6 separate regions of the Homo sapiens genome follow, and all the other regions are linked to region 2. The links come from fine-mapping of genetic effects on gene expression. A gene starts in region 2. Each other region holds a variant in brackets. All regions are shown on one strand. Distances are from middle to middle.

Region 1 (5,067 bases), 170 kb after region 2:
AGAGGACCAAGTGAGGATGAGAAAAAGAAATATATTCCAAAACTCAAATAAAATACATTTCTGATGATCTTTGCTTGAATGCAACACTGAGTTATATAACTAAAGCAAGTGTGTCTGCCCCGAAATAGGTGTATTATTAATTCATGGATGAAAACAGGAAAGGGCTAAAATGGCAGGTGCTCTGTGAAATGTGTTTGTAAATTTAAAGCTCATTTTGATTAGTTGTAAGAAGAAGAAGAATGAGCTTACTAGAGAGTGAAATACATGGTGCAATTCTTACTATCTATGCATCTATATTTTTTCAGGATTACAGAGTTAGTCACATTGACTTATTTACTGAACCAGAAGGGTTAGGAATCCTAAGTTCCTACTTTGATGATACTGAAGAAATGCAGGGATTTGGTGTAATGCAGAAGACTTGTTCCATGAAAGTACATTGGGGCACGTAAGTATTTTTTTTTCAAACAAATTTTAATGAAGTTTTTTTGTGAGTGTAGTACTGGAAAAAGAGGACTTAAGATACTCTGACTCTAATTTGTCATCCTGTTAAGTAATTATTAACTGTAAGGTATATTTTTATAAGGCACGTAAAATTCTGATTCTTTTGCACCTATGTTATGATTCATCTGTCTTAAAAACAGTATCGATTTATTATAGGAAATGGGGGGGGATTGAATTTTTTAATGTAAGGCTTTCCTTGTCACAGAGAAATCTGATTTATTCAAAGCTGAGTAGCAGATTATATTTTCATGGTGATTCAGAGGAGGTAATTCAAAGCACATGCCCCTGATATTTCTGGGGGGGGATGGAAGCCAACACACATGGTACTTCCTTGAATATTTTCACACAATGCTGGTTCAAAGCCCCTAGGAGGTTGGTTTCACAAATCACAGGAAACAGCAAGAATATTTTGAAGGAAATGGGAATACCTCAGATAGGGGAGAAATGAGGATAGAAAGTATAGACTGCAATACTGAAGAATGTGGTCTCCAAAGTGAAGCACAAAGCCCCAAGGCATGTGAAAGACATTCACTGAGATGCAGGAAAAAACACTAAAGCTTCTTTCTATTTGATTAAAGTCTCCACCTCTTAAGATTTTATTTTTGTATATGTTTTCTAATATGCATAATGTATTAGTTCAGTGGTAATGTATATAATTTATAAATATTCATATATTCAGAGAATGCTCAAATGTTTTTACTAATGGTTTATACAGTCAAAAAAGTTTACAGCCTGTCCCTAAAGTGGTATGGAGTATCTCTGCAGTGAACAATAAGGCACTCCTTAATCATGCTTTTTGCATTCTATTTATTACTAAAAGCCTTGGTTTGCCATTGTTCATATCTTAGAAAAATAATTTGCTTGTGTAAAAGGTAGGAATAGGATAAATTACAGATCATAGAATCTGATTTTTGATCCTCAGAAATGAGAAACTAAAAACTTCTAGGCAACTTAACAGGAAGTGTGGCTATTGAGAATTGGTAGCAGCTATCCTTGAATAGTTGGAAGGTGGTCATATAGAAGAGATATTAGACTTGCTCTCTGTTATTCCATAGGAGGTCCCAGGAAAAACCAGTAGAAATTAGAGAGATGGATTTTGACTTGACCCAGGGAAGAACTTTCTGATGGTTAATACAGTTAAAATGGAAGTGGGCTGCCTTGTTAGGTAAAGAGTTTCTCATCGCAGGGAGTACTCAGGTAGAGGATGGACAAGAATTTATCCAGAGCTTTGTAGGGAAAGGAAAGTATGAGTTAGGTACCTCCTTTACGACAGTTTGTTCATTTATTTATTTACTTTTAACATTTTGAAATATAAGACACCTAGAAAAAAGTTCACAGAAGGTAAATGTACACTTAAACAAATAAAGTGAGCACCCAAGTAGACACCACTTGAGCCAAGAACTGGAACATTACCAGCACCCCAGAAGCCCGATGGTATTCTTTCCCTATGGCAGCCCGTCTCAGAAAACAACCTTCCTCTCCCAGAAGAGTGAGAAAATAACAAGGGAGGACTATAGTGATGGTTCGTCAATATACAAAGGTGTAGTTACTAGGGCAGAATTTGGGGTGTAGAGAACAATATTAATTTAAATATCTCCTCTTGATGTATAAAGTTATTTTCCAAGGATAGTATACATTTTACTGCTTTTTAAATTATTTTTAATTGACACATAATAATTGCACATATTTATGGGGTACAATGTGAGGTTTTGATACCTGTATACATTGCATAATGATCAAATCAGGGAAGTTAGCAAATCCATCACCTCAAACACGTATTATTTCTTTGTGGTAAGATCATTCAGAATCCTCTCTTCTAGCTATTTTGAAATATAAAATATATTATTGTTAATCATAGTTACCCTACTGTGGAATAGAACACCAGAACTTATTCTATTATATATTTTTACCACATTTTCTTTATTCATTCATCTGTTGATGGACACTCAGGCTGATTCTGTATCTTGGCTATTACAAATAGCACTGCAAGAAACATGCAAGTGCGGGTATCCTTTGACATACTTGATTTCATTTCCTTTGGATATATACTCAGTAGTGAGATTGCAAGATCACACAGGAGTTCTATTTTTAATTTTTTGAGGAGCCTCTATACTGTTTTCC[A/G]TAATGGCTGTGCTAATTTATATTCCCACCAATAGTGTGGAAGAGTTCCCTTTGCTCCACATCCTCACCAATACTTGTTATATTGTGTCTTTTTGATAATAGCCTTTCTAACTGGAGTGAGGTGGTATCTCATTGTGGTTTTGATTTGCATTTCCCTGATCTTGAGTGATGTTGAACATTTTTTCATATACCTCTTGGCCATTTGTATATCTTCTTTAAATAAATGTACTGTTTTTTGTGTACATTTTGAGTTATATCATTTGGTACCCCGTAGTCCTTGAAAGGCTCTGAAATTTTTAAAGGTGGTTAGTTTAGAAGTAGAAATTAGGAAAGGCTTTTATTTCCTCTGCATACCCTGTCTAAATATGACAAGAAATTGGGACTTTAACAAATATAAACCCAAAAGAGTGTCTATGAGATGTATTAAATATATTCAGTAAATCTGTTAATCAAGCATCTACCATGTGCCAGGTGCTTTTCTAGTCACTGGGAATACAGCAGTGAAGACATAAAATGATGTCCCCATTCTCCTGGAGCTGTCAGTCTAGCAGGAATAAACAACACAAATACATATATAATGTGTCAGATGGCAAAGGCTACAAGAAACATAAATTACAGAGGGGCAGGCATGTTGCTATTTTAGATAGGGTAGCTAGTAAAGGACTCTGGTGACATTTTAAGGAGGGACCGGCAGGAAGTGAGGGAGTCTGCCCTGGAGCTAGCTGAGGGAAGAGGGGCAGGGAGCCTGTCCCAGAGAGGAAGCACACCATTTGCAAAAGCCCTTCTGGGCATGCTTGGGCAATAGCTAAGAGGCCAAGGCGGCTGAAGCTGAGTGAAGTAGGAGGATAGGGATAAGACAGGGCTCAGGTCACATCTGGCCTTTCACGCCTTGGGGAGGAGGATTTAGATTTACTCTACGTGGCATGGAGAATCATTGGCGAATTTTTATCTAACTTGTGTTATTAATAGAAGGATCAGCCTGTCTGTTCGTATAGAAAATAGTCTGTAAAGAGGCAAAGGTGGAAGCCAAGAAACCACGTAGGATGCACTTGCAATCATACAGCCAAGAAGAGATGGTGGCTTAGACGTGCGATGGTGGTGGTGGGAAATGGTCAGATCTTGGATGCATTTTGAAGGTAGAACTAACAGCATTTCTGACAGATTGTGTGTGGGGTATGAGGGGCCAAGACATGCCCAGGGTTTGGAACCCCAACATTTATTGAGACGAAAAAGACTTGGAGGAGCAGGATAGGAGAGAGAGTGAGATTCAGGAGCTCAGTTTTGGACAGGTTAAGGCTGAGATGCCAACTGCAAATTCAAGTAAGTGGGCAAGAAGGTGACTATGTGAGGCTGGAGTTCAGGGGAGAGGCTGGAGGCATAAATTTAGGAGTCACTGGCAAAGAGAATGTATTTAAACCAGGCACAGGACACAGTCCCAAAGGGGAGTGGGTGTAGTTAAGGGAAGAGAAGGCACTTTTGTATTTAGAGACTGGGAAGAAAAGTGGGAATCTAAGCAAAAGAAAATGCCTTCATCTCTTGCTGCCTTTAATTTTTTTACATGAAAGAAGTCTATACACTTTTTTTTAAAGAATTGGTGTCAGGTTGAGAAACACCACTTTCCTTAGAAAAGAATGAAAAAGGCATCTGTTATCATATTTTAATCTCAGTGTCTGGAAGGTGCCATGACTCAGGCTTGGCTATGTTGAAGCACATTAATCTACCTTAAATGATATTTCTTACCTTTGCAGTAAGTTTAGCTTTGCCTCCTGGGTGGTAGTTACCAGCCTGTCACAGCTTACAATTTATGACAGGTTTGTGTCATGGTGAGCATCTTCTTTTCTGGCTGTTCATTTCTGTTGAACACTGCCTCAGATGTTAATTCAAAGTTTGGGCTCGTTGAACTTGGTTGGTGAGCTTAGACACCAGGTCATTAGTGCTTTTATAGATCTCAAAGGAAAGTCTCAAGGGGTTGAGAAGATGTCACTGATAGTAAGTACTGAAGCTCATTTTGCTTCTGTTGATGCACTGGTTCCCCTGAACTGGGATAAGAAGTCTTTGCTGTAGAGGGAACTCCTTAAGAATCCATTAGGTGATTTATTCCAGGGCCCATTCACTCTAGATTAAGCTCTTCTACTCATACACAAAATAAGGGTGTTACTTGTCTGGTCAAATTCTTGTTTGAGGAAATGAGTGATTTCTAACTAAACTTGCCTTTCAGATTCTGTTGAGAGTAATTTGTTTTTAAATCTTTCTTTTAAGCAGCTGGCTAATCCTGGCACCCATCCTCCCAGAGGTGAAAGCATATTGGGTTTTTTGGGGGCGGGGTGTGTGTAGGGGTGGAAGTGGGGGGTGGTATATTTATGACGAACAAAAGCAAAGAAGTTTAGAACTTCAAAGGGAGTATAAAGATGATCTGGCCCAACACCATCATTTGACTGAGGAAGA
Region 2 (5,067 bases):
TATGTATATCACATGATATATATATCAGATGATTTTATATATATATATATATATATATATATATATATATATATATATATATGATATAATCTATGCATCTGTCATTGCCTCCTCCCCCAAGTCAGGGCCTGGCACATAATTAGTACAGTACTCAATAAGTTCAATAACTGTTTCTTGAGGAAATATAAATTAAAACTGCAATGTGATACCACCACATCCCCATCAGAATGGCCACAATGAAAAGGATTGTTAATATCAAGTGTTGATGAAGATATTGAAAAACTGGAAATTTCAAACATGCTAGAAAGAATATAAATGGGAAACTTTTTTGGCAGAATTCACTAAAGCTGAACATATGCATATTGTATTACCCAACGATTGAACTTCCGGGTATAAGTATCCAACAGAAATGAATGTGTACATCTCAGAAGGTTCATATCAATTTTATTCATAATAGCCCCAAACTGGAAACAACCTAATGTCCATCCACAATAATGGATAAATGAATTGTGGCATATTCATATCATGGAACAGTATACAATAATTTTTTTAAATGAAAAACTGCTATGGGTCAGGTGCAGGGGCTCACCCCTGTAATCTCAACACTTTGGTGGGAGGCTGAGGCGGACAAGTCACTTGAGCTCAGGAGTTCGAGACCAGCCTAGGCAACATGGAAAAACCCAGTCTCTACAAATGTACCCCCTCCAAAAAAAAAAAAAAAGCCCGGTCCTGTGGTGTGTGCCTGTAGTCCTGGCTGCTCAGGAGGCTGAGGTGGGACGATCACTTGTGCTCAGGTGGTCAAGGCTGCAGTGAGTGCAGTGAGAGGTGATGGTAACAGTGTACTCCTACCTGAGTGACAGAGTGAGACCCTGTCTCAAACAAAACAAGACAAAAAACTGCTACAATATAAGCAACAATATAGATGATTTTCACCGACTAATATTGAGCAAAGCAAACCAGAAACAGAGTACATATTGTGATTTTCCACTAAAATGAAATTCCAGAAAAGGTCAAATTAATCTCCAGCAAAAGAGGATGAAATAATGGTTAACTTTTACAGGTGGGAGGGGTAATGTACTGGAAGAGGACAGTAGGGAGATTTTTAAAGTTTTGAAAGTATTCTATATTTTTATAATCATATATATTTACCTATTATTATTATTTGAGACATAGTCTCATCCTGTTGCTCAGGCTGGAGTGCAGTGGCGCCATCTCGGCTCACTGCAACCTCTGCCTCCTGGGTTCAAGCGATTCTCATGTCTCGGCCTCCCGAGTACCTGGGATTACAGGCGCACCTCCACCACCACGCCCAGCTAATTTTTTTTTTGTATTTTTAGTAGAGAAGGGGTTTCACCATGTTGGCCAGGCTGGTCTCAAACTCCTGACTTCAAGTGATCTGCCTGCCTCGGCTTCCCAAAGTGCTGGGATTACAGGCGTGAGCCACCGCTCCTGGCCTATAATCATACATTTAAAAGCCACATACGGAAGAATTTTCTAGGACAATGTCAACTCTCCATTAAAAAACTTTTCACACCCCAACCACATAAATATGTAAAAATTTGAGTTTTACCCTTATGATTTGTGCATTTTACTGTCTATAAATTACATCTTGATAAAAATGTAAATAAAAACAAATAAAAATGAATGTTCCTTGAATGAGTGAATAAACGAATGAATGAGTTGTGTTTTCAAAGAGGAAAATAAAGACATTACCGTGAAAGAGGATCTTGTACTGCATTGAATTTTTAAGTAGTGCTTAGTTCTTGCACTTTCTTTGCTCTAATGATGCCCAAAATAATTGTTCGTTTACTTACTTTGCTTAAGTATTAATTTCCTTTGCTATTTAGCCACGACTGTGAAGTTAAGACAAGAAAGTCATCAACAGTAATGCAGATGATGTAAATACCTTGTGGGACTGGCATTTAATTTACTGCGAGGGATCTATTAAGCTCTTGGGGAATTGGGGAATATGCCTAATTCCCTTCTGGCGTTTTTAATTTTTTTAATCCTTTTGTGTTTTATGAGATGTGAGTACAAATTAATTATTCAGACTCTTGAGAGAGGAGACGAGTTGGCGGAGTTGCCACCCGTGTTCACGAACAGGAACAGAAGCCACCAGCACATGACATTGCCCAAGCCACCCAGAGATCAGAGTGGAAGAGTCCTAATTGCTGGGCGGCCCAGCCCCGGGATGTGCCTCTCCCATCCTTCTCCAGGCGGGGCTCGTGGCTAAGCAGCGACTCACCCTGCCAGCCTGTCACAGGCCAAGAGCGGCCAACAACTCCGCAGGCGACAATGGCCGCTGCACCCCAGGCGCTGTGGAAGCCCGACCCGGCTCTGGGTCCCATCTTAGAGCCTGGGATGCAGTGTCGGGAGTCGCGGTGCCCAGAGCATCCAGTAGGTGTCGCTGTCCCACGGCCGCCGCGCGCCCCCGGGGTGGGGAGCCGGGGCGTGTCTGCCTCACCTGGGGCTCCCGGCGCGAGCGCCTCACCTGGGCTAGCGCCCCTTGCCGCCCGCGCCGCGCGGGGGCGCTCTTCCGCGGCTGGGTCCCCGCCTCCGCCCCAACAGCTCGGGCTGCAGTGCTGCTCGCGCTGCGCTGGGTGCTGGTTCTGCAACCCGCGGCCGTCCCCCCGCATCCGCGACGAGGGGGCGGGGTCCCACGGCGCGCTGAGAAAGGCGGGCGAGCTGGCGCTCAGGTGTGTTCTTCCATAGGGCCCGGGCGGCAGAGAGGACCGCGTCCCGGCAGTCGGAGCGGGAGGAGGACAAGACGATGCCGCTGTCCCCGCCAGCCCAGGGCGACCCCGGGGAGCCCAGCCCGTGCAGGCCCCCTAAGAAGCACACCACCTTCCACCTCTGGCGCTCCAAAAAGAAGCAGCAGCCGGCGCCGCCTGACTGTGGGGTGTTCGTTCCGCACCCGCTCCCGGCGCCTGCCGGAGAGGCCAGGTGAGCTCCTCGCCCGAGCCCTCCAGTCCCACCTCCTCCTCCTCCTCCTTCTCCTGCTGCGCTAGCCCTTGGACTCCTGACCCCACTTGGAGGAGGGGAAAGCCCCGGGGTCTGTTTCAGTCCGCAGGAGGGTACCCGGGTCCGGAGGGGAGCGATCGTAGCCGCTGGGGTTGACGAGGTTCCTCGCGGCTTTTGGTTCAGACCAAGCACCGGCGAGAGGAACTTGTGCCCACGCATGTGGCCTTTAGTATGACTGCAAAGTTTTCATGCAGGAGCCTCCCGCATCAGCCTGCTAACCAGAGCGGCGGGGAGTGAGGGTTGTTACCGTCCTAAATGATGGCGGGAACTCTGCTTTGGGGTTAGGCACTGCTTTTGAGCTAGTGTCTTTATTGTAAAGCTCTTTATTGTGAATATCTGTAAGATCTGTGCTCTTACAGATGTTATACCCCCATTCTCCTCGCAACATACGAAGGGAGGAGGAAGTGGCAGGAATGGTTACCCCCATTTCATGGGTGGAGGAACTGAGACCAAAGGATAAATGGCTTCTCCCCATTGGAGCCAGTGGCAGAGCTAGAGAGCACCTAGTTATCAAAACTGTAGTTACCATTGTGCTTTTTGATTTTTATCATGGTTTTGAAGTGGTTTTATTCTATATGTATAATTATTCAACTATAGCATCAGAGTTTATGCATTCGTTGAATAATAATCAATTTGAAGTAACAGCGTATTTACATGGCTCAGAGGTGTGAAATATTTATAGTGATGGACAATTGACAATGTCCAGTAAATCCTTCCAAATGTGTTTTTAAAATACACCCTATGAGGGCCAGAATAAAATTGTGCAAAATTTGCATTTTAGACATGGTTTTCCTTTTATTTCTTTCTTTCTTTTTTTTTTTTTTTTTCTGAGACGGAGTCTTGCTCTGTCACCCAGGCTGGAGTGCACTGGCCCAATCCCGGCTCACTGCAAGCTCCACCTCCCGGGTTCACGCCATTCTCCTGCCTCAGCCCCCGAGTAGCTGGGACCACAGGCGCCCGCCACCACGCCCGGCTAATTTTTTGTATTTTTAGTAGAAACGGGGTTTCACCGTGTTAGACAGGATGGTCTCGATCTCCTGACCTCATGATCCGCCCGCCTCGGCCTCCCAAAGTGCTGGGATTACAGGCATGAGCCACCGCGCCCGGCCTCTCCTTTTATTTGTAAAAAAAGTCAATTTTACGATCTATTTTCATTCACTTATTGTATTGAGTACCTTAGCTAAGTGCCATGTACTGCGATATAAAAAACAATGAGAGACAGGAATAATTGTGTCATCAAAGAATTGTTAGTCTCTTGTGGATACCAAAAAATGCAATGATAGATGCCAGCACACAGGAGGGGATCAGGGAGGCTTCCTGGAGGAGGATAGGTGAAGTGGCTTAGGCAGAAACAGGGAGGAGCAGCGAGTTCCAGGCAGGGGCTGCACTGTGCACATCACCAGCACTTAGAAGAGCGTGGCACTTCCTGAGAAGCGCAAGTGGTTGCAGCGGGGAGGTCTAGGTGTGAGTGGGTAAGGGTAGGAAACCTAAGAAAGAAGTCATTTTATTTTTCTCTCATATTTTATCATCCACATTGGTAATCAGTTGTAGTAGAAATATATTACCTATTCAAACGTTTACTGTGCCTAATTATAGATTATACTTTCTAACAAAATACAGTATTTAATGTACCCAACATTGAAGTTCTTTTCTATTACCTCAGTAAATATTTTAAACATTTCCATCGTGGTTTTCCTTTTAAGATCTAGTCTTATCATTTACTGTCTATCAAAACATAATAATACACAGCTATAGGTAATTTATTCAAATGTAAATACATTTTAGTATAAAATTTAAAATAGGAGGCCGGGCGCGGTGGCTCACGCCTGTAATCCCAGCACTTTGGGAGGCCGAGACGGGCGGATCACGAGGTCAGGAGATCGAGACCATCCTGGCTAACACGGTGAAACCCCGTCTCTACTAAAAATACAAAAATTAGCCGGGCATGGTGGCGCGCGCCTGTAGTCCCAGCTACACGGGAGGCTGAGGCAGGAGAATGGCGTGAACCCGGGAGGCGGAGCTTGCAGTGAGTCGAGATCGCGCCAC
Region 3 (5,067 bases), 140 kb after region 2:
CATTGTGTTACTTACTTAGTTTCTATAATTTTAACTTGAGCAAAACATCAGCAAAATATCGCACTGTTAATAAAGCCAGCCATCACTGTCATAGGCTACTTTGTGCTTTTCAAAAGATGTTCACATGTATCATTTCACATGAATTTCTCAGTACCCTGTATGATAGATGTGCAACTTTTGAGAGAATAAGTGATTTGATCCCATTTAGTAGTATTCCTGAGTTCTGATCATAGAAGTGTGAAATCTACTTCTTAATTTGCAAAGTGTTGGTAGAAAGTCAACAATTCTCACTAGAAACTACAGGAAACTAAGACATTTCTGGGCAGTGTATATTAATTGGAAAGATAAAGATTGTTCCATTTTCTAGAAATAAATCCACTATTAAATCCACACTTACAAACATGGCTAAACTGACCTGAAGTTATGAGGTCTCAAGGTCACTAGAAGTCTCAGAGCCAGCCTAGCTAGAGTCCGTGCTGTGTTGGAGAGGCTTGTCTGTTCCTCTTCTCCAGCTCTCATTTCTCTTCTGGGTCCCAGTCAGCCCCAGGGCCTCTGACTTGGCTGTAGCTGTGCCTGGTCGGGGCAGGCAGGCTGTGTTAGTTGTCTCCAAGGGCCGCTTCACCCTCTTTCCCCCAACTTAATCACCATCTCCTGCATCATATCATTTATACATGGATGACCCAACTGAAGTTTAGTCCTTGGTTCTTTAGTACTTAGATTCTGAGACTCACCAGTGGCTTTTAAGTGCTTTAAAGTAACCATTCTTGATCTTTGACATGAATTATTGCACAAGTCATTCTTTTTAAATTGCATAAGGAATGTACTTTCTGGGTTACAAGTTAATAAAAAGGAACTGATTTGATGACTTCACAAGGAACACATTTCCATTTTCCAGTTTGGCTAAATTTTAGTTAGGAACTAACTTGTCAGTAATTTGATTATGTTAATCAGGATATGCATATAATCCAGGAGGTAGAATAAGAAATACTTTTGCTATAAATTTCAAACTACTCTATCTCCTTTTAATTACACATTATGCATAAGAAAAAAAATCGCCGAATTAGGATAATACATCTCAACTGTAAAGCAAATTAATTCAGCCGGATAGCTTTGTGAGAAAAAGAGAATGTTGGGGAGACTATTCAAAGTACAGGTAGAGAAACCTTCTGGGGTACTTGTTAGTCATAATTAGGCACACAGTAGAATTAGTCAGGATCCCAGCACAGGAAACATATAGCACACTCAAGTTGTGTAATTAAGGAAAGTAGTGAAGGACTATTTACAAAGTGTGGGCGAGGTTTTAAGGAAGCCAAGAAGGGCTAAAAAAAACCTTAGGCTTCAGGGTTCTTCTTTCACATGGCCTCTTCCAAGGCCCTCTCCTTAAAATCTATAAGCCAGAATTTTGTGTTCTTTGTCTTAAAGAAAACTCTCAAAATAACATATGCCTCATGCCCCACAAAACTTCATTCTACCTCAAGCAATAGCTAATGAAGCCTTCCCATCTGGCACCTGGTGAGGTCCTTTCCCATCTTAGGCCTGAAGGAGCAAGAGGGGAAAGCGGCTCGGGAATATGGGGAGAGAGAACAGCGGCGGAAGTGGGCTGCCTGGCAGAAGCCCTGGTCACACCCAGCCACACCCAACCCAGAGCCCAACTAAGAGATGGAGAGATTAGGGGGGAAATCAGGGCCTCCCACTGGCTGAACCTAACCAAATCCTAAGGACAAGAAAGTCAGTTTCTACCTTCCATCATAACTGGGAGCCTGGGGCGCAGACAAGGCTGAGGGAGGGTGAGCCTACGGAAAGATCCAGCACACTCTATCTACAATTACCTGGATTCTAAAGACAGAGCTCCATCACAAGAGAGGGCTCATTGGCTGTTTATGCTATCACATCCATTGCTGTACTGCATGGCCTAGGAGAAAGCATGTAAGCCATGCCTTCATAAAAGTGACACATTAATCATTCTAGTAAAGTCTTATTTTTCTAATGATACATTATAATTTCTAACAAGAAAAAATACTGAGCTACCTTTTAGAAAGCCTGACTTATGTCTTAGAAAAAATAATTCGATTCTACAGGCCACAGGTTGCCTCTTTAAGGTGCGGAGAAAATTCTGGCACAACGTAGACACTCAATAATTATCAGTGGAATGAATGAGTAAATGATCCTACAATTCAGACATTCCATGATCTTATCTTTTATCTTCCTTTCTGAT[T/G]GATCATGTGTCGATGGCTTGAAACAATTAGGTTTCACTTTGTCTCTGTCAAAGTATAAATGACTTAAAGACAATACCAACCCGAAACTGGGAGTCTGCTTTTTAAAAGAAGCTTTTTGGGAGAATGAAATTATAATTATAAATTATAAATTAACTTTTATAATTGATGGCTTTTGTATTCAGTGACACCTCTTTTTCAGGACACAGGTTAATCTGGAAGTTAAAAAGTCTGTCACTATTCTTTCACCCAATAGTATACCTTTGATTGTACCCAACAGGATGATATTATTGTTTGGCCTGAAGTGACAGCATTAGAAAAAAAAAAAAAAAAAAACCACAACCATTGAGGTGTAAGTAGAGAGGTATGTGTTACATTATGTTGAAATGACAGAAAAAAGATTTTTTTAAAAAAAGAAAAATAGCATCAGAGATGAGGTGGGCACTAGAAGTGGTGACAAATATTAGAAGCAGCATGGGGCAAGCAGACATTCCACCCCGGGAGACTGGGAGCAGTGACATCGGAGAAGAAGGTTCTGAAGCCCTAACCTCAAGGATTATTGGTTATATCATATGAAATTGGACTGTAGATCAAAAATGGCCAAATGTCACAGTTTCATATACCTTTTCATAAGAGATCTGCTTACTACCAGACAGTGTTACAGTCTGTGGGTCATTTAGTGTAAGCCGTAGTCTTCACTCCTTCTAACAGCCCTGGAAGAAATCACTATTGTAGCACAAATGTAGTAACAGAGGTTCATAGTTCTGTCTCCAGAATCATAAAGAAGTAGCTAAATTATATCTAGTATACTCTTAGGTAACTGAATCATATATAATAGAAAATATTTTAAAAGTTAAAATGAAAAGCTTCTGTGCTTAATAGATCAGAGTTCATTTATGTGAACATTTCTTTATTCTTTTTGCTGTGCGTGTGTGTGTTTGTGTGTGTGTATATGTGTGTGTGTGTATAGAACAGGCCACATATATTATCCCAATCAATATCAGAAAGGAAAACACAAACGGAAAGGTGGGGAGGATAGTTAATTTATTTTTAATGCCTATTCCAAATCAATGTCTGTGGTATCAGGGATCTGTATGTGGATCCTCCCTTAAACTTAACTTCATCTGCCTGGTGTTTCTGATACTGAGATGATATTCTGCCATACACTTATCATGGGAAAATACAATTTTAACTTTAATTCTAAAAGTCTTCAGAATGAATATCCTGGAAGTTATTAAAAAAAAAAAAGAATCATGTCTCATAAAAGTCTTTCTTTAAGATGGACTGGAGTGCAGTGGTGCAATCTTGGCTACTGCAACCTCTACCTCCTGGGTTCAAGTGATCCTCCGGCACAGGACAACAGGCATGCCCCACCTCACCTGGCTAACTTTTTTTTTTTTTTTTGAGACAGAGTCTTGCTCTGCCAGACTGGAGTGCAGTGGCACCATCTCAGCTTACTGCAACCTCCGCCTCCCGGGTTCAAGCAATTCTCTTGCCTCAGCCTCCCAAGTAGCTGGGACTACAGGCACGTGCCACCACACCCGGCTAATTTTTTGTATTTTTAGTAGAGACGGGGTTTCATCATGTTAGCCAGGATGGTCTCGATCTCTTGACCTCAGGATCTGCCCACCTTGGCTTCCCAAAGTGCTGGAATTACAGGCATGAGCCACCGCACCCGGCCCAATTTTTGTATTTCTTAGTAGGACAAGTTTCACCATCTTGGCCAGTCTGGTCTTGAACTCCTGACCTTAAGTGATCCGCTGGCCTCAGCTCCCCAAAGTGCTGGGATTACAGGCGTGAACCACCATGCCTGGCCTTGTTTTTCTGTGTGTGTTTCTCCTTTTTCTCCCCCTTCCCCATTCCCCATCTTCGTTCTTTAGTTAGCTGTCACGAGTCTAAAGTCTTTCTTGCTTCTATTGAACAGAATTTTCTAACCCCTATTTTAACTTTTAAAGTTGAAGTGTAAAGTAGCTCAAATTCCTATATTTTTAAGCCACACAACTCATGCTATTTTTTTTTTTTTACAAAAAAACTGCTCAGGAAAAAAAGTTGCTCACTAGCACAAACACACATATGCATATGTTGTGAACAAGTAACATGGCCAATCCTATCATTTACAGTAATATCCAGTTGACTCATTCCCATGTGGCTGAATTGAAAAGCTAAGGTATCTTTCAGAAATCAACAAAGTGAGAGCTCTTAGGGAATCACACGTGTTTAAAAAAAAAAGTTACTTTTGTACATTGATGACCACATTTTAGAAGGATGCACAGGTGAGTACATGTAACAAGATTTTGTTCCACTTTCCTGAGTCAGATTTGGGCTGAGAGGCTGCAGTAAACCTGTGCACCGGTAGCTCCATCAACACGTGGAATCCTCACTCTGGCAGAATAAAGCTGCCAAGTCTTGACCACACTAAGTTTTAGGCAGATAAGATTTTCATTCTGATTTGTTTAGAACAATGTTTCTAGTTGTCTCCAAGAGCATTGACAACTCCTTTTTTGAAAGGCAGGAGGGATGTTACTAATTCTTTAGTAGCAGCAAATACTTTATGTCCACCTCTAGCTGTCAGTCCCCCATGCTAGCTGTTGGAAAGGCAACAGAACATTTTTCCTGTTCTCAAGGAGCTTACATTCACTGGGGAATGAAAAGGTGGGAAACATAGGAAAACTTATTTATTTATTTTTTATAAGAAACATCACTTTACTCAAAATGTTATTAGATTTCTTGTCACTTTTTTTTTTTTTTTTTTTTTTTTTGAGATGGAGTTTCGCTCGTCAGCCAGGCTGGAGTACAATGATGTGATCTCAGTTCACTGCAACCTCCGCCTCCTGGATTGAAGCAATTCTTCTGC
Region 4 (5,067 bases), 300 kb after region 2:
CTCCCACCTCAGCCTCCCTAGTAGCTGGAACTACAAGCTTGCACCACCATGCCCAGCTAATTTTTGTATTTTCTGTAGAGACGGGATCCTGCCATGTTGCCCAGGCTGATCTCCAACTCCTGGGTTCGAGCAATCCACCCATCTCAACCTCCAAAGTGCAGGTGTTACAGGCATGAGCCACCATGCCAGGCCACAGGATTACTTTTTCTAAGAATACTATTTGAGGCCGGGCCCAGTGGCTCATGCCTGTAATCCTAGCACTTTGGAAGGCCGAGGTGGGCAGATCACCTGAGGTTAGGAGTTCGAGACCAGCTGGCCAACATGATGAAAGCCTGTCTCTACTAAAAATACAAAAATTAGCTGGGCGTGGTGGTGGGCACCTGCAATCCCAGCAACTCGAGAGACTGAGGCAGGAGAATCACTTGAACCCGGGAGGCAGAGGTTGCAGTGAGCCAAGATCGTGCCACTGCACTCTAGCCTGGGCAACAGAGTGAAACTCCATCTCAAAAAAAAAAAAAGAATACTATTTGGTTATGTTCCAGATTAAAAGACTGTTACCATATTGACCAGATGCTTGTAATGACTTTGGAGTAGGAAAACAAAAGGAAATAATTTTCTAAGTGAAAACATTTATTAAGCTAAAGATATTACTTTTGCCAAATATTACTGATTAGAACCATATTGTTTATCTCAGGGCACAAGTTGATGAATTATATAGGTCAATGTAACAGCATAAAAAGAAATTGAAGGAGAGAAGTCAGAAAGCATTCCTCATGATCACCATTTGGGGGTTCTGATAAAAGGAAGTTAAAATTACTGCTGGTATCCCTAGCTCCTGAGTCAGTGCCAAGTTGGGTCAACTTGGGTAGACAAAAGTGATAGGAAAAATGGGATTCGGAATACTTTTTTTATTTTAAAAAGTCAACTTATGTGCCAGGAAGAGTTTATTTATTTATTTTTGAGACAGAGTCTCACTCTGTCACCCAGGCTGGAGTGCAATGGCACGATCTCAGCTCACTGCAACCCTGCCTCCTGGGTTCAAGCAATTCTTCTGCCTCAGCATCCTGAGTAGCTGGGACTACAGGCACACGCCACCACACACAGCTAATTTTTGTATTTTTAGTAGAGATGGGGTTTCACCATATTGGCCAGGCTGGTCTCAAACTCCTGACCTCGTGATCCGCCCACCTCAGCCTCCCAAAGTGCTGGGATTACAGGCGTGAGCCACCATGCCCAGCCAGGAAGAGTTTATTTTTAATTGACATAAATATTTACTTATGTAACACATTTATATCTACCTTTTGCTATTTATCTTCTGTTTGTCCCATCTGTTCTTTTTTCTTTTAACCTTTTCTTCTGCTTTTTTTTCTTTAAATAGTAATTTTTCTCTTAAAAAGATCTAAAATGAGAAAAATAGTGTCATTTATATTTACCTACATATTTAGTATTTCTGGTGCTTTTCTCTCTGCTCTAGAGATATAAATTTCCATCTGGTATAATTTTGTTTTTACTTGAAGAACTTTCTTTAATATTTCTTGTAGTCCTGTTGGCAGTGAATTCTTTCAGCTTTGGTTTATATGTAGAACTCTTTATTTTGCTTTTAATTTTGAAAGATATTTTCTCTGGGTTTAAAAATGTAGGTTAAGCTGGGCACAGGGTACACTCCTGTAGTTACAGCTACTCAGGAGGCTGAGGTGGGAGGATTGCTTGAGCCCAGGAGTGAGAGCCTGCACTGAGCTATAATCGCACCGCTGCACTTAAGCCTGAGCGACAGAGCGAGAGCCCATCTCTTTAAAAAAAAAAAGTATAGGTTGCTTCTTCTTTCTGTACTTTAAAGGTTTTGTCCATTGTCTTCTGGCTTACATAGTTTCTGAGAAGTCTGTTGTCATTCTTATGGTCATTCCTCTGTATATGATGTATCTTTTTTTCCTCTGATTTTAAGATTTTCTTTTTATCATTGGTTTTCAGGAATTTGACTGTGATGTGCCTTGGTGTGGTTCTCTGCATATTTCTTCTTCTGCATAGGGGTTTGTTAAGCAGCTTTGATCTGTTGGGTTATAGTTTTAATCAAATTTGGAACATTTTGGCTATTATTTCCTCAAATATTTTTTCTGTCCTCCATCTGTCTGGGACTCTCTTCACATGTATATTAATCTGCCTGATGTTGTCCCACAGCTCACAGACACTACATTCTTTTTTTTTCCCCCAGTCTTTTTTCCTTCTCTGCTTCCTTTTGGCTAGTTTCCATTACTGTTTTCAGAATCACTGATCTTTTTTTCTGTTATGTTGATTCTTTCCAGTACATTTTTTATACATTATATTTTTTTCTCTAGAAGTTCCATGTAGGTCTTCTTATCCCTTCAATTTCTTCATTATTTTATATTTTCTTCTACCTTCTTGAACATATAGAACATATTTAGGCTGCGTGCGGTGGCTCACACCTGTAATCCCAGCACTTTGGGAGGCCAAGGCGGGTGGATAACTTGAGGTCAGGAGTTCGAGACCAGCCTGGCCAACATGACAAGACCCTGTCTCTACTAAAAATACAAAAATTAGCTGGGTGGGAAGGCGTATGCCTGTAATTCCAGCTACTCGGGAGGCCAAGGTACAAGAATCACTTGAACCTGGGAGGCAGAGGTTGCAGTAACCCAAGATTGTGCCACTGCACCCCAGCCTGGGTGACGGAGTGAGACTCTGTCTC[C/CA]AAAAAAAAAAAAAAACATATTTATAGTAACTGTTTTAATGTTCTTATCTACTCAGTATTCCATCATTTTTGCATCTGTGTGTATTAATGCTTTTTCCCTCTCTGGTTATGGGTCATATTTTTTGCTGCTTTTCATGTCTGTATATTGTGAATTTTACATTGTCATTTGCTAGACTTTTGTTATATTCCTTTAAACAGTGTTGGGCTTTTTCCCAGGATGCAATAAAGGTGCTTGGAATTTGTTGGCTCTTTTCAAGGCTTCTTTTAAAGCTTTGTTAAGATAAATCCAAAGCAGCCTTTATTCCAGGGCTAATTTTACTTTACTTTGAGGTGATGCTTTGATGCTGCATATATTTGAGTCTTTCGCTTTGGCTGTTCGAAACACAAACTTATTTCCGTCCCTGTTTGAGCTCTAGGAATTGTTCAGTCCACTGCTCTTTGGGGATTGTTTCCCCAGCCTTGGGAATTTCTTCTCATGCACTCATAGATCAGTACTCAGCCAGAGACTCAAGGAATCTCCCTGCAGATCTGTTGAGCTCTCTCTTTGTGCCACTCCCTTCTATTCAGCACCCTGCTTTGCAAATTCTAGCTGCCTTTGCCTCCTTGAACTTCAGATCTCTGTCCCTTTAACTTACCCCCCACCCCACATACTGTTTAGCTTCCTCTCTGGAATGAGGCCTGAAAACTGCCCCTAGGCATTAAGCTGGGGAAATCAAAGGGCATATCTCATTTTCTTTTCTTTTCTTTTTTTGGAGACAGGGCCTCACTTGGTCACCCAAGCCGGAGTGCATTGGCATGACCATGGCTCACTGGCAGCCTCGACCTCCCAGGCTCAAGCTCTTCTCAGCAACCCTCAACACTCCCCACCCCCCCCGTGAAGCTAGGACTACTGTAGTTTTTTTTGTAGAGACAGGATCTCCCTGTGTTGCCCAGGCTGGTCTCAAGCTCCTGGGCTCAAGGAATCCTACCCCCAGCCACCCCACAGGCATGAGGGACCACACCTGGCCTGGCTTACTTCATTTGTTTCTCTTCTCTCACAACTTTTTCTCCTGAATGTCTGTTGCCTAATGCCTGAAAATGGTCATTTCATATATTTTGTCCAGTTTTCTAGTTGTTTAAGAAGGCAGAGTGTCTTAGTTCTTTTTTTTTTTTTAATCCCCTATTCTGAGAAGCAGTCTTAGTTCATTTTTGCTGCTATAACAGAATGCCTGAGACTGGGTGATTTATAATGAACGGAGATTTACTGGCTCACAGTTCTGGAGGCTGGGTGGGAGGTCCAACATTGAGAAGCCAGCACCTGGTGAGGGCCTTCTTGCTATGTCCACACATGGCAGAAAGCAAGGGTGGGGAGAAAAAGAGGGAGAGAAAGGGAAAGCACATGGGGGGCTGAACTTTCCCTCTTAGAATGGCACCAATCCCACTCAAGAGTGGAGTTGTTATGGCCCAATCACCTCTTAAAGGCCCCATCTCTTAATACTGTTTCAGTGGCAGTTAAATTTCAGCATGAGTTTTGGAGGGGACAAGCATTCAAACCATAGCACAGGGTAAATCCCATCTCCATTACTCTATCTTGGATGGAAGCAGTTCTTCTTCTGAGCCATATTTAAAGTAGGAAGAAATTTAATAGAAAACAAGTATTTGTTTTGTTTTGTTTTGTTTTTTTTTGAGACGGAGTCTTGCTCTGTCGCCAGGCTGGAGTGCAGTGGCGCGATCTTGGCTCACTGCATCCTCCACCTCCTGGGTTCAAGAGATTCTCCTCCTGCCTCAGCCTCCCCAGTAGCTGGGACTACAGGCGCCCACCACCATGCCCGGCTAAATTTTTTTGTATTTTTAGTAGAGTCAGGATTTCACCATGTTGGTCAAGCTGGTCTCGAACTCCTGACCTTGTGATCCGACGCCTCGGCCTCCCAAAGTGCTGAGATTACAACATGAGCCACCAGGCCCAGCCAGTATTTGTTCTTTATAAAATTCAGGTTTTGGAATATGGTGTTTAAACCACTTAGGTGTTGTCAGTGTGTAAATTATATGTGATGCCTGCATTGGTCTCTCTGTAGACCTGGTGGTCAAATAAGAGTAAGGACCTATGATATTTCTGTACCACTCTTTTAGAGTAAAACATATTTCACGTTTTTATCGTATTTTATTTGGCCCTCAGTAAAACTGGAGCAGGTATATCCATTTTTACTGTTGTGGAAACTGTTGTGGAAAAGAATGGTTAGTTCTTTTTTTTTTTTTTTTTTTTTTTTTTTTTTTTTTTGAGACGGAGTTCCGCTCTTGTTTCCAGCTCTCCACGCTGGAGTGCAATGGAGCGATCCCAGCTCACTACAACCTCCGCCTCCCAGGTTCAAGCAATGCTCCTGCCTCAG
Region 5 (5,067 bases), 160 kb after region 2:
TTCAAAATATATGGTTGGGTTTCCAGCAGAGGTGCAGATCCCTTTTTCATGTGATTTCATAAACTTTCATAAAGTTTGGGTTTCAGATGTTTGGTGTTAGGACCCTTTATGTTTAAAAATGATTGAGAACCCCAACGAGCTTTTGTTTGTATGGGTTCTGCCTATCAGAATTTATTATATTATAAATAATTGCTGAGAAAATTGTAAAACACCAGAAAGTAGAAGTGCACACTGCACCAGTGCTCAGAGCAACGATGTCATCACACATCATGGAGCCTTGTACTCCGCTGGACATTTGAGACAGAGATGAAAAAGGCAGGTGACCTCTTCTTATTATGAAAATAGTTTTGACCCCATGGACTACCTGAAAGTATCTTGGAGACCCCCGCAGTGGCCTCTGAACCACATTTTGAGAACCACTGCTATAAACAAATAAGACTGAATCAGCCTATGGTACTCAGAAATCATAAAATTCTAACTATTTCTATTAATAGTTATATAATAGAAATATTAACTATTTCTCTCAAGCACAAAATTTCCACTGGTCCACTTCCCATTCATTACTACTTTGTTCTTTTTAATTGTTCTTAGATCGCTTTCCTTATTTAACTACAGTCTGACAAAGTTGATAACAGAATATACAGTTTCCCTATGAAAATCAAGTCAAATGACATAAAAAGGAAAAATAAAATCTTTATACTTTTTCTAGGCCTTTTTATGATTAAAAAATATGGTCTTTCTTTAGGTCCTGGGCTTTTATTGATTGTATATTCAATCATGAAGGTTTTACCTGAATTTTGTTTTAAATTTTAGGCTTTTTCTTCAGTTTATCTACTTCTAATGTGTATATATACATAAATAGGTATATACCATCTGGCTTCTGATAAGGCTCTAGGGGGGCCCTTATGGCCTTTTTTTTTTTTTTTAGAGTCAGAATCTCGCTCTGTCACCCAAGCTGGAGTGCAGTGGCATGATCTCAGCTCACTGCAACCTCTCTGCCTTCCAGGTTCAAGCGATTTTCATGTCTCAGCCTCCCAAGTAGCTGGGATTATAAGTGAGTGCCACCACGCCCAGCTAATTTATGTATTTTTAGTAGAGACGGGGTTTTGCCATGTTGGCCAGGCTGGTCTCGAACTCCTGACCTCAGGTGATCTGCCCACCTCAGCCTCCCAAAGTGCTGGGATTACAGGTGTGAGGCACTGCGCCCCAGCCTTTTGTGGTCTTCTGGGCATATCACACTCTGGTGTGATGCAAGAGCAGTCAGAGCAAAGGCAGTTCCTAAAATAGGCATCCTGGTCAGCACTGAAAGTAGTTCACGTTTTGTAATATTTTTACATGTATAATTACTATTTTATTATCTTATGCATTTCTGGTTTTACTGGTCTTGTCAGATGGTCTTGAAAATGATTAGTTTTGGAGCCATATTGAAATGTATTTTGTCTATCAAAAAAGCGGGATTAGGCCGGGCACGGTGGCTCTCACCTGTAATCCCAGCACTTTGGGAGGCTGAGGCAGGCGGATCACGAGGTCAAGAGATCGAGACCATCCTAGCCAACATGGTGAAACCCCATCTCTACTAAAAGAAAAATACAAAAATTAGCTGGGCCTGGTGGCACATGCCTGTAGTCCCAGCTACTCGGGAGGCTGAGGCAGGAGAATCACTTGAACCCAGGCGGAGGTTGCAGTGAGCCAAGATGATGCCACTGCACTCCAGCCTGGTGACAGAGCCAGACTCCATCTCAAAAGAAAAAAAAGGGGGATTAAATATACTATGTGCAATGTACATTATGAAATATACCATATATACCATAAACACTTCTATTTAGACTAGTGGTTGTTATATGATTGTAGATTTACTATGAGAAAACAATATTTATATGGATTCAGATAGGGTATGTATATGAACACAAAATTGATTCAGCTCTTTCTAGGTAAGTGATTAATATATTCTAATTTATCTTTATTTGAGATGATACTGATATTATTTGAATTAGAATCTCTTAGCTGAGTTCCTATTCTGTGAACTGACATGAAACATATGTGCCCTGAATTTTCTAGCATTGGTGGAAATAGCCTAGACATTTAAATTAGGAGAAATTGAAATGGCAAATTCAGTTAGAGGTGAAAAAACCTCAATTTAAAAGCATAAACTCAAAGAGTTTTAATACAACTTTAGCATCCATTAGAGTGGAGGTTTCAAAATCGATACAATGTGGGAAAAGTGTGATCTACCTACAGGATCGTGGGTGGAAAAAGAGGATCGTTATGTGAAGTTGTAATTATTTGTTGTGTTTTTGTTCATCTGATTGCAGACACTTAGAGGAAGTGTCCAAAATAAACTCAATCCCCGACCTGGAAAGGTAAGATTATTTTCTGTTTCTAGTCTTGATTCTATTTTGGTCTGACAGAGTACAACAAAGTGTGCTACCACTTTCGTTTTCTTGCAGGTAGTGATATATAGTGAACCCGACGTCTCTGAGAAGTGCATTGAAGTTTTCAGTGACATTCAGGATTGCAGTTCTTGGAGCCTCTCTCCAGTGATACTCATAAAAGTTGTTAGAGGATGGTAAGAATGGCACTTTAAGTTCCTGATGTCAAGTGTTTGAGTTTTACATAC[T/C]TAATTAACTTTTTAGTCCTCACTACTAGTTTAAAATTATGGCTTTAGCAATGAAAAGCACAGGAAATACTACTCGTGGTAAGATAAGGGATTCATATCTTAACAATGTCATTTTAAATCATGTTTCTGATTATAGCAGTGATATATGTTTATGGGAGAAAAATCAGAACAATACAGTAGAACAAGCTTCTTTTTCCCATGCTTCCCCATAATATTGTTTTGGACTAGTCATATATCAGGGCCCATAACATACTCTTGGTTGATGACCTTTAAATGAGGTTGATAAGAATTGCACTAGTTATGTTGATAGGCCAGATACGACTTTTCAAAAACCTATAAGGAAACTTGAGAACACGTAGGAAAAGGCAAAGTAAAGAAACAATAAGGAAAAAAAATCTATAAGGTAAAACAAAAATAATCTATAAAGAAAGGCATTTTTCTAACTTTTTAATGACAGTTCAATGCAGCACTAACTTAAAATTTAATTTACTTTCCAATATTTCCACAAAAGATTGTTTTGGCTAAGTAAAGAAACTGGTGAAAAAAATAAATATTTTGACAGTTTCTGAAATCATTTTATCAGCTTCATTGCCTCTTGGAGATACACAGGAAGTTGGGTAGAGAAAGGCAGCTTAAAAAAAGAAATCGCTGATCTGGCATAATAGTTATCTTTTGGTGCCTACTTGTAAACTTGTTTGAAGTAAAGAGGGTAGACCTCTGAATGTTTATGGATTTACAAATTCATAAGCTTTTCTTTTGGTCTCCATTTGATTAAATATGCAGCAGCTTTCCTATTAGATTTTTAGGTGTTTTAATATTTTTTCCTATATATCCAACATAGTCATGAGAAAAACAAGATTTGCTTTTATTCTTAAATTTGAAGACAAATGCTATTTTAATTGCTAGAGAATTGGCCACTAATATACAATATATAATAGTGGCAATTTTTTACACAAATTTTGTTTTTATGGAACAGTACTTTTTCCTTTCTTTTGCAACTTTTGTCGGCTTCTTTTTCTTGAAAGCATAAGCATTTACACTGCCATATATTGACATGAGGTTTTTCTTTAGTGTTTGGCTGTTGTTGGGAAGAATATTATTAAAATGCTTTCCATTACCATATCTATAGTCTTTTGTGCCAACATATTCATTGATATGACTGTAATATGTAAGTTAAAGTCTCTCTAAGAGAAATGTTTTCTACACATATAAGGAGACAAAAGGCCAGACATGGTGGCTCATGCCTGTAATTCCAGCACGTTGGGAGGCCGAGGTGGGCAGATCACTTGAGGCCAGGAGTTCGAGATCAGCAGGCCAACATGGGGAAACTCAGTCTCTACTAAAAATACAAAAATCAGCCAGGCTTGGTGGCACATTCCTGTAATCCCAGCTACTAGGGCAGCTGAGGCAGGAGAATTGCTTGAACCAGGGAGGCGGAGGTTGCAGTGAGCCGAGATCGCACCACTGCACTCTAGCCTGGGCAACAGAGCAAGACTCTGTATCCAAAAAAAAAAAAAAAAAAGAGACAAAAAAAAAAAAACCTAGTACAGTAAACATCCATTTATCTGACATATTATCATAAGTCTCTACCACTTGGCAATTACTTAGAACATTAGTAGCTCTATAGCATTCATATAGGTAACTCCAAAGTTCTCTAAGATCCTGATATAGTTCATGAGTTATCAGAGGCTTAATTATACCCAGTAAAATATTAGTGTTAGGGAGAGTTTAAGCTATTTTAATTGCTAGATAATTGGCTGCTAATATTCTATATATATATATAAAATGGCAATTAGCCAGGTTATTTGAGTAATCAAAACCTCTCTCACGAAGACTGACTAATGGTTTTGCTGTGTTTTATTGTTAGTTGGATTTTGTATGAGCAACCAAATTTTGAAGGGCACTCCATCCCCTTAGAAGAAGGAGAATTGGAACTCTCTGGTCTCTGGGGTATAGAAGACATTTTGGAAAGGCACGAAGAAGCAGAGTCTGATAAGCCAGTGGTGATTGGTTCCATCAGACATGTGGTTCAGGTAGGTTGTGGTAAATATGGATTTTATTTATTCAGCTAATATTTATGGATTCTTACTTTAAGGGAAATGATCATTTTACGAAATATGTGATTGGGAAACATATTTGGTGCCTTATGGATATATTTTCTGTATTTTAAGTATTTGTACACTTTAAATAATTTAAAAAGAAACATAATTGGTTAGATAATTTTTCACAATAAACCCTTTAGGTAGATCTTTTATGCCTGTCCTTCTATTCCCATCTTCCAAATATATTTTACCTGGTAACTTGGTTTAAATGAGTTCTGCCTCTATGAACAGGTTTTTCATTTATTTAGTGTTTTTGTTTGCTGTATGAGTTCTGATTACTTTGAGTGGTTTATAGGAATTCTATTTTGGAAAAATAAATAATCCAAAAATAATTTGGTTGATTAACTC
Region 6 (5,067 bases), 190 kb after region 2:
GTATTTATGTAAAACATAATTATTGCTACAAAAGAGGTACAGATTAAATGCTCTGGGAATCCACAGCAGAGAGAGATTAATTTCCAGTCTGGACACAGGGAAGGAAGACTTTGTGGAGGAGGTGGCATTGGAGTTAGGCCTGTGGGATAGGATAGGAAGGCTGAGATGAGCCAAGATGATGGAGGAGGACTACCTATTCACTTTAAATAGTTTCAAAGGAAAATTATTGTATTTTAATGGCTTTATTTTTATTGGCAATTAAGTATTTTAGCTTGGTTCTTTATTTCTTATTATGGCATGCATTGTCAGAAAAAAACTCTTCTGAAGTTCTTGTTCCATGAAAGTATCTCCCAGGAGGCTCACCATCACATGGGTAATACATCCCCTGGGCAGTAAACTCATCATTAGTCCTGAAACAGAGAACAGCCTTCAGGAAGGATGCCCATGAAACCAGCAACTGAGGTTTTTAGGAACTGCATTTGATTCTTACTGGAAATGTCGAAAGAAACTCCCTGCTTATCAGTTTCTAGTTCTATGCTATATTCTTGCTCAAATAGTGGAAACTGGGCTAGTTTTTTAAAACTAGGAGCAAAATGAAATATTTCTGGTATTCAGATGAAAACGAAAAGTGTTGTTGTTTTAAATTCTTTTTCCTTTGGCCTTCCACGGAAGGGCAGGTTTACCCTGCTGCCCTTATCTTCTGAGCAATTATTCCACCAGGCTGGGACCTGCTAGTACTTGTGTACATGCCTTTCCCCCGTCTCCCCACCAGTCTTTAAACAGAGGAGTGTTGATTCATGTGTACAGAATACATCTGGACAAGGACAGGGAGGGATTTTCTTAAGAGCCCCAAGTGTAAGTTGTAAGTAGACTCTCGGATCATAGAGCAGAGAATCTCAGATCTGGGTTTTGCGGCTTCTCCCCTCCCCCACTCCCCCCATTCATGGGTGATTCATCAGGTATCTTGGAGGGAAAACAACACTACTGTCAGTTCAAGTAACATCTTAATAAATTGTTTTCCAGCTTCAGCTTCAGTGAATTAGAGATAGGCTTAGCTGGGTGTTGGGTATTTACTTACAAGTAGTTTAGTTTCATAGGAAAATACAGTACCCATACTTGTTAGTAAAAAGAACAGAGTACTGGCTAAAGCTGCTTCCAGGGCTGTCCTCTCTCCTTGGCATTCAGCCTCCCACCTCACTGTCTTTTTTCCCTCCAAACCTTGAAGTCAAACAGAAAGGCCTTTAACCCTCTTATCTCTCTACTTGTTACAGACTCGGAGCCCTGGTGAGAACCCTTTTTTTGATGTGGCTCTACTTCTTTAATTGTTCGTTGTTTTTTTAAAGTCCTAGTGTTTGTAACGTAGATTTTCTTTTTTTTTAAATTTTATTATTATTATACTTTAAGTTTTAGGGTACATGTGCACAACGTGCAGGTTAGTTACATATGTATACATGTGCCATGTTGGTGTGCTGCACCCATTAACTCGTCATCTAGCATTAGGTATATCTCCTAATGCTATCCCTCCCCCCTCCCCCCACCCCACAACAGTCCCCGGTGTGTGATGTTCCCCTTCCTGTGTCCATGTGTTCTCATTGTTCAATTCCCACCTATGAGTGAGAACATGCGGTGTTTGGTTTTTTGTCCTTGCGATCGTTTGCTGAGAATGATGGTTTCCAGTTTCATCCATGTCCCTACAAAGGACATGAACTCATCATTTTTTATGGCTGCATAGTATTCCATGGTGTATATGTGCCACATTTTCTTAATCCAGTCATGTAGATTTTCTTGATGTGCAGACACTCCTCCCACATAGCAGTGCTCCCTGCTCTGGCTTTACTGTTGCTTCCTTTCATGCTGGGGGTAAAGCCTGAGGCCCTGTGGGCAGAGGCAGCACATGCGGGTACCCGTGTGCTGTACAGCATCACCTGGTCAGCCCGGGGACCTTGGCCCACTCTCCTACTTACACTTGAAAATACAAACTTTCACAAAGGTTAAGTGAGTTCTTCAAAGTTATCTGAAAGTTAATGTCATGGCCACAGGTGGAGCCAGGTCTCCTATCTCCTCACCTCTCAGTGATAAAGGATAGGTTTTTAGGCCGGGAACAGTGCTCACGCCTGTAATCCTAGCACTTTAGGAGGCTGAGGTGGGTGGATCACTTGAAGTCAGGAGTTTGAGACCAGCCTGGCCAACATGGTAAAATCCTGACTCTACTAAAAAAAATAAAAAATAAATAAAAATAAAAAAGAACAGGTTTTAAAAATTGCTAGTGAGGTTCTGAAATCGGGGGATGGGGGGTGGTAGGGGGCTGTATTTCCTGAAAGACTGAGTGGTGCATATAGCAGCTTCTCCATTTGGATGGCTGGGAGTGAGTGCACAGATGTTGGCTGTTATTAGCTACTTCTCACTGGAGATTTTGGCAGTGTTCTTTTTTTCCTTGATGGCTGTTCATATTCTAGTAATTACTGTACTTGAGTTTTTGTTTAAATCAGCCCTTTGGATAGTAAAATCATAATCTGCTCTAATTATAAAGTGTGTGGACTGTTTTAGGCATGGTTTACTAGAACAGTAAATGAAAGGGAACTTTCCAGGGCACATGGCAGGTTG[G/A]GTCACAAAGCAAGGAGAGCCTGGTGGGCCTCAGGACAGGTAGGTTCAGTCACGTTCTGGCCAATAGTCGATTGTGTCACCCTGGACAAGTCATTTCCCATTCAAAACAAATACCAACAAATACTTCCATGTGATGCTGCTTACCCATCTGTGGGCTTTGGAGGACAGAGATTTTGTCTTTTTCATCTTTGTATATCTAGTGCCAGTCTAGTTCCTGGCACCTGGTAAATGAATTAACTTACTGTGTCTTAGGTTTTTCCCATCTGTAAAATGGGAACACCAATACCTCCCTAGGAGATTAAATGTGATAACAGATGTGGAAACATTTTGCAAAGTTCTGATCACCCTACATAATACATACATAGATATTATTCCTTTAAGCTTTGAGAGGATCATGAGAATGATGAATTAATTGAAAAGATACTTAATGTCTTCAATATAATGGTATTAAGTATCTCTTTAATATAACAGAACTGAAAAACCTTTTCCTTTCAAAGACTTTATCTTTGCATAGGAAATAGCATCATTAAATTGGTTTTGTTGATTTTCCTCTGGGTGTAGATCACTTAAAAGAGAAAAAAACATTCCAAAAGAGATTTATTTTTAGTATTTCTATGAGTTTGCTCAATTTTGTTTATTTAATTTTTACATATTTATGTGATGTTGGAAACACTGTTGGAAACAATATTTTAGTTCTGTTCTGCATTTTTAAAAGCATTTCTTCTGTTAACTTCTTTTTCAGTGTGGTTTGTTGTGTAATAGACACAGCTTCCTAAGATCTTTCTGCAAAAATATTTTAAGGTTGAGAATGAAAGGACTTATTGATTGCTTATTAAAAGAACTAGGTTCTTCTTGAAAGTCCTGTTTGTTTTGTTTCCTTAGAATACAATTAGAAAAAAAAAAGCACAGAGAAGTATTGCCTTTGTAGCTTTCTCAAGAAATAGTATTTGATAAGCGAGAACGCCAAAAAGTTCATGTCAAGATACCCTTACGCTTACCATTTCTTTTGCATTAAGTTTTTTTTCAACTCTTATTTTAGATTCAGGGGGTACATGTGCAGGTTTGTTACATGGGTATATTGCATGATTTCCTGAAGTTTGGGGTACGGTTGAACCCGTCAACCTGAGCATAGCATGCAACAGGTAGTTTTTCAAACCCCCCTCCCTCCTGGCCCCTTTTGTAGTCCCCAGGGCCTATTTTTTTTTCTTCTTTATGTCCATGCATGACCAATGTTTAGCTCCCACTTATGGGCAAGAACATGCTCATAAGTATATGTTCTTGCTCATAAATATTTGGTATTTGATTTTCTGTTTGTGTTAATTCGCTTAGGATAGTGACCTCCAGTTGCATCCAAGTTGCTGCAAAGGACTTGATTTCATTCTTTTTTATGGCTGTATAGTATTCCATGGTTTATATGTACCACATTTTCTCTATCCAATCCACCATTGATCAATGAACACCTAGGTTGATTCCACATCTTGATATTGTGAATAGTGTGGCAGTAAACAAGACACGTGCAAGTATCTTTTTGGTAGAATAATTCGTTTTCCCCTGGGTATATCCCAGTAATGGGATTGCTGGGTTGAATACTAGTTCTATCTTTAGTTCTTTGAGAAATCTTCAAACTGCTTTCCACAGCAGCTAAACTAATTTACATTCCCACCAGCAGTGTATAAATGTTCCCTCTTCTCTGCTGGCTTACCATTCTGATTTGTCCTATAGACAAACCCATCTGCTTCTAAAGGTTAATGGAGAATCAGAAAAATTAAAATTTCAATTGGCAAAACAAATGAAAGTTTCTGTATGATACATAGATATCCAAATATGTGATCGTTTTATATGTAAAATATGAACTCCAACAAGTGATTGCTTTTGTTTCTTAGATGGGTAGCCTATGAAAATCCTGACTTCACAGGAGAACAGTATATACTGGATAAAGGATTTTATACCAGTTTTGAGGACTGGGGAGGCAAAAATTGTAAGATCTCTTCTGTTCAACCTATATGTTTGGTAAGGAGTTATATTTTTGTATGAGAATATTTAACTGAATTCTGGATTTCCTTAATGTGTGTTCCTGGTTCATGTAATAGTAATTGCTATGGAAAATATTCTGAGTTTATTTTTAGCAGTAATTGCTAATAATCTAGAAGAAAAAAACTTTTTCAATGTGTTTGTTCTATTCATTTCCTTTTCTCCTTCCTTTAAAAATTTTTAGGATTCTTTCACTGGCCCAAGGAGACGAAATCAGGTAACTTTAAAAATATTCTTTTATATTAATATATAAAGGGCCTTCCATTGAAAAGCTGAACTTATGTTTCAAATGTCAGACATTTGGGGCCGGGTGTGGTGGCTCACGCCTGTAATCCCAGCACTTTGGGAGGTCAAGGCAGGTGGATCACTTGAGCTCAGGAGTTCAAGACCAGCCTGACCAACATGGGGAAACCCCGTCTTTACTAAAAAGAC

The links. PIP is the estimated chance that this variant, and not a neighbour inherited with it, causes the effect. A credible set is the group of variants that fine-mapping cannot tell apart.
Region 1: its variant is the best candidate, but not a certain one, in a credible set for the expression of CRYBG1 in whole blood (GTEx, PIP 0.77).
Region 3: its variant is the best candidate, but not a certain one, in a credible set for the expression of CRYBG1 in unexposed skin (GTEx, PIP 0.71).
Region 4: its variant is the best candidate, but not a certain one, in a credible set for the expression of CRYBG1 in prefrontal cortex (BrainSeq, PIP 0.55).
Region 5: its variant is the best candidate, but not a certain one, in a credible set for the expression of CRYBG1 in testis (GTEx, PIP 0.64).
Region 6: its variant is the best candidate, but not a certain one, in a credible set for the expression of CRYBG1 in whole blood (INTERVAL, PIP 0.50).

Annotation. Positions count from the first base shown.
Region 1 is chr6:106,529,871-106,534,937 of GRCh38, forward strand. It overlaps CRYBG1 (crystallin beta-gamma domain containing 1), which reads left to right. Exons shown (of 22, transcript NM_001371242.2): 8 at 306-445. Among named protein-coding and RNA genes, the nearest start is that of RTN4IP1, 97 kb to the right of the region's middle. The variant A/G (reference allele first, on the strand shown) is at 2,623.
Region 2 is chr6:106,358,139-106,363,205 of GRCh38, forward strand. CRYBG1 (crystallin beta-gamma domain containing 1) reads left to right here and starts at 2,579. Exons shown (of 22, transcript NM_001371242.2): 1 at 2,579-2,943. The coding sequence starts at 2,771. RefSeq lists silencers at 2,380-2,589, 2,610-2,689 and an enhancer at 2,585-3,451.
Region 3 is chr6:106,501,500-106,506,566 of GRCh38, forward strand. All of the region lies in intron 2 of CRYBG1 (crystallin beta-gamma domain containing 1), which reads left to right. LOC101927405 (a long non-coding RNA gene) reads right to left here and starts at 722. Exons shown (of 3, transcript XR_245566.4): 1 at 416-722. The variant T/G (reference allele first, on the strand shown) is at 2,216.
Region 4 is chr6:106,656,764-106,661,830 of GRCh38, forward strand. All of the region lies in intron 9 of QRSL1 (glutaminyl-tRNA amidotransferase subunit QRSL1), which reads left to right. Among named protein-coding and RNA genes, the nearest start is that of QRSL1, 30 kb to the left of the region's middle. The variant C/CA (reference allele first, on the strand shown) is at 2,702.
Region 5 is chr6:106,522,821-106,527,887 of GRCh38, forward strand. CRYBG1 (crystallin beta-gamma domain containing 1) reads left to right here. Exons shown (of 22, transcript NM_001371242.2): 5 at 2,313-2,360; 6 at 2,448-2,566; 7 at 4,485-4,650. Among named protein-coding and RNA genes, the nearest start is that of RTN4IP1, 100 kb to the right of the region's middle. The variant T/C (reference allele first, on the strand shown) is at 2,618.
Region 6 is chr6:106,547,365-106,552,431 of GRCh38, forward strand. It overlaps CRYBG1 (crystallin beta-gamma domain containing 1), which reads left to right. Exons shown (of 22, transcript NM_001371242.2): 14 at 4,488-4,614; 15 at 4,820-4,852. Among named protein-coding and RNA genes, the nearest start is that of RTN4IP1, 80 kb to the right of the region's middle. The variant G/A (reference allele first, on the strand shown) is at 2,605.